Linked DNA regions of Homo sapiens. The protein of the gene in region 1 interacts with the protein of each later gene in a biochemical or structural test. Each region holds a gene or a part of one and is shown on either strand. Other genes may lie near its edges.

Region 1 (3,827 bases):
AATGACGTTGCATAGGCAATAACCATGTGGAACTCATTACTCTGAGACAGGAATCTGTAATGATTTTTGGGTCACTCATCCTTTTGAGAATGCTGAAAGATAGGGACAAAAAACTGTTTTTTTTTCCCTTCTTTTTCATAAAAAGGATACACCTGCAGCTGCATACAATATTTATGTTCAAATACAAAGGTTCCAAGGTCCCTGATGTTAAGAACTCCACCATTAACTGAAGTGTAGGTAGAAAATATGACTTAGGTATGTACCTGCCAGTCATACGTATTTGTGAAGAGAAAATGACGGAAGCAATAATAGCATTTACCTTACAGCACTGCTGTTGGCATGAAAGCTACTCTACCTATTCTGTAGAGTATTTAACAATAATCACCAGCTACTAAGTGCCAGGTCCTGCGTTAGGGGTGCAGATGGTATTGAGATCCCTGTTTTACAAACCAAGAGATGGAGATTCAGAGAATAAAGTCAGCTGCCCAAAGGCACAGAGCTAGGGAGTAGCCGAGCTGGCATTCAAGCTCCAGTCTCTCAGGCTTGGAAATCCATACTCCTTCCATTTTGCTAAACAGTTCTTACCTGATGTTCTTTGGGGCTGCTGATGAGTCTGAGTAAGTAGGCCTAGATCATGATCCCAGTCCAGGCTCAGCTGTGTGTAGTACCATGTCATCATGTATGACAAGGTCTGACCCCCCCGACTAGCACAGCAGTCCATCATCATTACGGGGGAAAAAAGAAAGGGACCAGAGGGAGATTCTCAGGCATGCAAGGGGTCCCCTCCCTTCTCCTGAGGACACAATGGTCATCATTAAGTACCTGATCTAGGATATAGTTGCGTTTCTTGCGGGCAGCAATCTGGATGAGGCGGTTGAGGCACTGGGTGGCCTGCTGGATCAGGACATCCCAGCGGCCAGCATAGTTCCGCTGCCGGCGTAGGCCCATCACCTGCGGGCAGGAATTGGTGAGGGGTGAGTGATTTTAGTTGCAGGGCAGCACTCAGTAGGTTGGAGGTGAGTAAGGAGAGTCCAGTGGCTGGCCTTACCCGCATCTTATCCATGATGGCATTGGTACCCAGGATGTTGTACTTCTTGGAAGGGTTGGAGGCTGCATGTTTGATGGCCCATGTGGTCTTGCCAGCAGCAGGCAGGCCCACCATCATCAGAATCTACAAGAACAAGACAGGGAAGGTGTTGCGGCATGGTGGTATGGCACCACTTGGCTCGGTGGTGACTGTGAGTGTGACTCTGGACCTCTGAGCTGTGGCTGCCTCTACAAAGCGGAAGCAGTAATACCATCTACCTCACAGTACTGGTATCGGGATTCAAAAAGATCAGGCTTGTCAGACTCTGAGCACAGTGCCTGGGACAGGGTGAGCATTAAGTCAAGTGCTGGCCAGGCACGGTAGCTCACGCCTATAATCCCAGGACTTTCGGGGGAAAACAAAAACAAAAAACCAAGTGCTGTCATCATTAGCATTTATAGTATTTTGTTTTTTTGAGACAGGGTCTCACTCTATTGCCCAGGCTGGCGTGTAATGGCCCAATTACAGCTCACTGCAGCCTTGAACTCCCAGGCTCAAGCAATCCTTCTACATCAGCCTCCAGAGTAGCTAGAACTACAGATACAAACCATCACACCCAGCTAATCTTTTTCTCTCTTTTTTTGGTAGAAATGAGAGTCTCCTTATGTTGCCCAGACTGGTCTCAAACTCCTATACTCAAGGGATCCTCCTCCCTTCTTGGCCTCCCAAAGTGCTGGAATTATAGGCATTTGCCACCAAACCCAGCCCATTTACAGGATTATGTGACCCATTCCCCGCCCCCTGCAATAGCCCAGGGAAGGCTGTGTACTGGGACTGGCCCCATGGAGTGGGTAGAAGTGGTACAACTTTCTTTAAGTATGAAATAGGAACAGAGCTGCACACACAAGGACATGAATTGTATCTAATCAGTACATTTAGAATTTGGTAAACACAGATGCATCTTAAATGCCCGACTAGGGGGGAGTGGCGAGTTTGTAAGGCCATTAAGAATGACGTTCATTCCCTTGAAGGATTTTTAAAAAAGAAAAAATGATGTTCAAAGAGAGGTTTTTATGTGATGGGATAAAGCTCACAAAATAATGTGAAGTGAAAAGAGCAGGGTATCATAATGCTTATACCATAGAATCTCAATGATAAATGTTTGTGAGCATAAAACAGGCACTTAGACATTAAAAAGAACAGATGAACTCCAAAACTCTGCAAGTAAACTTATTTGTAGATGATGGCATTATGAAAATTTAAATTTTTTACTTCTTAATTTTCTAGAACAAGCATAAATAACTTACACATACAAGAAAAATATTGTTTTAAGAAAAAAGACACTAGTATAGCTCTTGGAATCAAATCTTCCCAAAGGCCATTTATCTTTTGATAGCTCTGGGTGAGAGGTGGAACTTACTCAACCTCCTTCAAGAACACTCGGTGGGCCAGGCTCAGTGGCTAAAAAAGTTAGCCTGGCATGGTGGCATGTACCTGTGGTCCCAGCTACTCGAGAAGCTGAGGTGGGAGGATCACTTGAGCCTGGAAGGTCAAGGCTGCAGTAAGCCGTGATCGCACCACTGCACTCCAGCCTGGGTGACAGAGCGAGACCCTGTCTCTAAAGAAAAAAAAAGAACACTTGGTGGCACAGTGCACTCCCCAAGAAGCGCCTAGTGTCCTTTTCTGCTGTAAGAAAAGCCTCCTTTTCCCCTATTCTGGCCTCACTTAAGAAGAAGATGCAATCTTTCTGAGATTTAGGTAGCCTCTCCGACTTCAACTTAGGTCACACCAACACCCCTCACCTCACACTCAGAGCAGCTTTTCAGCTCTGAGTCCAACCCTGAGGAGCTGGGACAAAGTGGCCACTTGCCCCAAGGCTACTCTCGCAGCAAGTCTGTGTGTGTGTGTGTGTGTGTGTCTCCTCTGTCTTGGCAGCAAGGTGGCCACCAATACATTCTGGCCCCACTCACCTCACATTCTGCCTTGCTCTTTGGTCCAACGGTGCCCCGGATACGCTCACTAAGGGGAAGGTGCTGGATGAAGGTAAACCCCGGGAGGACAGAACAGTAGGGCTCTGCTCTCTGTCCGAAGTTGAACTCCACTGCGCAATTCTTCACCAGGACATGAGGATAGAGGGCCTGACCCCCCAAGGCTTCCTTCTGGATTCGGAAAGCAATGCCCATCCACTTTCCATTCTTGGTAAAAGACAGTTCCACGTCATTTCCACATTCAAAATCCTAGGAGAAAAAGCCAAAGGAATATGATTGCCAACTCTTGCCATAGGCACTGGGAGTCAAATGTGAGGACAGTAGATGCAGGGAGTAGAATGTGGACAGCTTTCCAGATTGAAGTGCATCCTTCCCCAACATACAGGTAAGCTGGGCAGCATCAGTGAACATCTCAGAGAATGTCCAGCCCAAAGTCCTCCTTGCCTAAGACCCCAAAGTTGGTGGATATGAAGCAAGTAAGCAAGAGTTTTTTTTTTTTGTTTTTTTTTTTTTTGAGACAGGGTCTCACCCTGTCCCCCAGGCTGAGTGCAGTGGCACAGCTAGGGCTCACCGCAACCTCAAACTTCCAGGTTCAAGCAATCCTCCCACCTCAGCCTCCTGAGTAGCTGGGACTACAGGCATGTTCCACACCTGGCTAATTTTTAAATTTTTTTGTAGAGACAGGGTCTTGTTATGTTGCCCAGGCTGGTCTTGAAATCCTGGACTCAAGTGATCTTCCCACCTTGGCCTGCCAAACTGTTGGAATTATAGGCTTGAGCCACTGCACCTGTCCTAAAGCAGGTAATTTTAAG
Region 2 (3,827 bases), on another chromosome or scaffold:
AGAGCAATGATATCTATTGCATAAGGTAAGTAGGAGGATGGAGTGAGTTATTAAATTTAAAGTGCTTAGCACACTGATACATAGTAAATGCTCAGTGTTTATGTTACCTATTAATAATTGCAGTTTTATGTTTGTTGATTTATCAGTTTCTTTTTAAAATTTTAAAATTATTGTGTTTGTTTGTTTGTTTGTTTTGAGACAGAGTCTTGCTCTGTTGCCCATGCTGGAGTGCAGTGGCACATTCTCGGCTCACTGCAACCTCTGCCTCCCGGGTTCAAGCGATTCTCCTGTCTTAGCCTCCCTAGAAGCTGGGATTACAGGTGCCCACCACCACACCCTGCTAATTTTTGTATTTTTAGTAGAGACAGGGTTTCGCCATGTAGGCCAGGCTGGTCTTGAACTCCTGGCCTCGAGATCCACCCACCTTGGCCTCCCAGTATGCTGGGATCACAGGCTTGAGCCACTGTGCCTGGCCTAATACTTTGTGTAAATTCCATGAGGCCTGCAATCATGTCTGGGTTATTTTACTCTGCATTGTATCCCCAATACCTGGAGAAGTGCTGGCAAGTTTTAGGTGCTGAATAAATGCTTGCTAGTTGCATGAATGAATGAGGCAGTGGGAAGAAAGGGACAGGTGAATGGGGAAGAAAGGCAGCTTGGGGGAAAAACAGGAACAGGAAGAACTATTGTTGGACTCAAGTGAATATTTAAATAAATTAGGAATGTGTGAATGCTGAAACCGGGGAAGTGATTTTAAATTGTAGCTTTCATTTACTTTATAGCTGCTACCTTGTGTCTTTAAGACAAATTAAGAATGTTTCTAGGCCAGGCGCAGTGGCTCACGCCTGTAATCCCAGCATTTTGGGAAGCCAAGGCAGGCAGATCACCTGAGATTGGGAGTTTGAGACCAGCTTGGCCAACATGGAGAAACTCTGTCTCTATTAGAAATACAAAATTAGCCAGGTGTGGGGGCGCATGCCTGGAATCCCAGCTACTTGGGAGGCTGAGGCAGGAGAATCTCTTGAACCCGGGAGATAGAGGTTCCGGTAAGCCAAGATCGCACCATTGCACTCCAGCAACAAGAGCAAAACTCCATCTCAAAAGAAAAAAAGAAAAGAATGGTTCTTCACTTTTAAAAAGACTGATCATGGGCCAGGCGCAGTGGCTCATGCCTGTAATCTAAGCACTTTAGGAGGCCAAGGCAGGTGGATCACTTGAGGTCAGGAGTTCGAGATCAGCCTGGCCAACATGGGGAAACCCTGGTCTACTAAAAATACAAAATTAGCTGGGTGTGTTGGCGTGTGCCTGTAATCCCTGCTGCTTGAGAGCCTGAGGCAGGATAATTGCTTGAACCCGTGAGGCAGAGGTTGCAGTGAGCCGAGATTGCACCAGTGCATTCCAGACTGGGCGACAGAGTGAGACTGTCTCAAAAAAAAATAAAGAATGATCATGGAGATATTTAAATAATTTGATAAGTTTTTTTATTTTTTAGAGATGGGGTCTCACTCTGTTGCCCATGCTAGTCTCAAACTCCTGGGCTTAAGCGATCCTCTCGCCTCAGCTTCCCAAAGTGCTGTGATTATAGATGTGAGCCACTGCACCTGGCCATGTTTTTATATTCAAAATTTTATAAACCTATTTCCAGCGTAGGTGAAGTATTTTGTTCATAAATGAAGAATGAAAGTTTCACATGTGTTTGTGGTGATGGAATGAGTTGGAGAACCTTTGCTGACTTTCATTATCAGCTAAAGCAGGTATCATTTTCGTTCAAAAGACACAGGCCACAAAGGGTACGCAAATACCACACACATGTGAAGGCGTTTGGGCAAGAGTCACATGATAAAATAAGAGATGATGCATAGAACTCTTGTGGTCAACAGAATACATAGCATTTGTATCTTAATTATATAACGAAAGGGGAAGGGAACTAATGTTTTTGACTATTTCTAATGTGACAGATGCTTTAGTAGTCAGTACTTAAGTAACCCTAGAAGATAGCTATTATACTCCCATTTTACAGAGGAAGGAAGTACAGAGAGGTTGAATAATGTGTCCATGGGGTGAAGATTTGAACACATGTGCCCTTGAGTATTACATTTGTTGCTTTATATACTTACTAGGGATTTTTTTTTTAAAGGGTCTCACTCTGTTGCCCAGGCTGGGGTGCAGAAGCACAATCTCAGCTCACTGCAACCTTCACCTCCCAGGTTCAAGTGATTCTTTTGCCTCTGTCTCTCGATTACAGACGTGCGCCACCACGCCCAGCTAATTTTTGTATTTTTAGTAGAGATGAGGTTTCGTCATGTTGTCCAGGCTGGTCTTGAACCCCTGGCCTCAAGTGATCTGCCGCCTCGGCTTCCCCAAGTCCTGGGATTACAGACTTGAGCCATTGCACCTGGCCGTAATTTTTTTTAAATGACAGAGTCTTGTTCTTTGTCTCTCAGGCTGGAGTGCAGTGGCATGATCATAGCTCACTGCAACCTCCAACTCCTGGGCTCAAGTGATCCTTCCACCTCAACCTCTCCAGTAGCTGGGAGTACAGGTGCATGCCACCATGCCCAGCTAATTTTTTTTTTTTTTAATTTTGTGTAGAGATGGGGTTTCGCCATCTTGCCTAAGCTGGTCTCTAACTCTTGGTCTCCAAACAGTTCTCCTGCCTTGCCTCCCAAGTCTTTGGGATTATAGGCATGAGCCACTGTGCCTGGCCTTGTCCCTTAAAATGAGTTACATTTGTAAACAGCTGATTTCTTTGGAGCATCGTCCCCATATACTTTTCTTTCATAAGTGATCTCATCCTTCTTCCACCCAACCTTCCCCTTGAATTTGTTGTTTGTTGTTGTTTCCATTTTAGCAGAATTCATGTTGCTCTGATAGGGGCTCTTTTCAAACTGATGTCTTATCCTTCTTAGTACCTCAAACTAGGTCTTGTTCAGACATGTTATAACAAGTTAGTATGAGTTTATTTTAGTGCAAAAAAAATTTTTGAAATGCATGCATAGTTTTTTCATAATGCACATTTTTCGTGTACTTTTTGAATCCCCCTCATACATGCACGTGGTTTTAAAATCAAACGGAACAGAAAGGTGTTCATGGCCGGGCATGGTGGCTCACATGTGTACTCTCAGCACTTGGGGAGGCTAATGCAGGAGGATCCCTTGAGGCCAAGAAAGAGTTTGATACCAGGCTGGGCAACATAGCAAGATCCTGTCTCTATTTCATTTAGAAAGAAGAAAGAAAGAGGTGTTTAATGTAATTACTGACCTCCTGCCTTACCTTGTCCAGTACTGTTCCCCAGAATAACTGCTTTTTAGAAAAATCACTGTCATTGACATTTTGCTTACGTATAGTAAATTGCACCTTTTTTATTTATTTATTTATTTATTTGAGGCAGAGTTTCCTCCTGTCACCCTGGAGTGCAGTGGCGTGATCTCAGCTCACTGCAACCTCTGCCTCCCAGGTTCAAGCAGTTCTCATGCCTCAGTCTCCTTAGTAATTGGGGTTACAGGTGCACGCCACCACCTGGCTAATTTTTGTATTTTTAATAGTGATGGGGTTTCACTATGTTGGCCAGGCTGGTCTCGAACTCCTGACCTCAGATGCTCCTCCTGCCTTGGCCTTCCAAAGTGCTGGGATTACAGGCATAAGCCACCATGCCCGGCCAAATTGCACGTATTTTAAATGTACAGCTTGATGAACTTTGACAAATGTGCGCACCCCTGTAACCACATTGCCCCTGTGGAGATATAGAATACTTCCATCAACGCACAACTCCTCTTGCTCCTTCCCCACCTCCATCCTCACCCTAGGCAACCAGTGTTCTGGTTTCT

Evidence for each region.
Region 2: the proteins of HNRNPUL1 (region 1) and RPA1 form a complex in vitro, tested with the Homo sapiens proteins (one study listed by BioGRID).

Annotation. Positions count from the first base shown.
Region 1 is NC_000019.10:41,291,682-41,295,508, reverse strand, and holds part of HNRNPUL1 (heterogeneous nuclear ribonucleoprotein U-like protein 1), read right to left. Parts: intron 3,265-3,827; coding exon 2,998-3,264; intron 1,172-2,997; coding exon 1,049-1,171; intron 952-1,048; coding exon 823-951; intron 1-822.
Region 2 is NC_000017.11:1,832,750-1,836,576, forward strand, and holds part of RPA1 (replication protein A 70 kDa DNA-binding subunit), read left to right. Parts: intron 1-3,827. UniProt on the Homo sapiens protein: As part of the heterotrimeric replication protein A complex (RPA/RP-A), binds and stabilizes single-stranded DNA intermediates that form during DNA replication or upon DNA stress.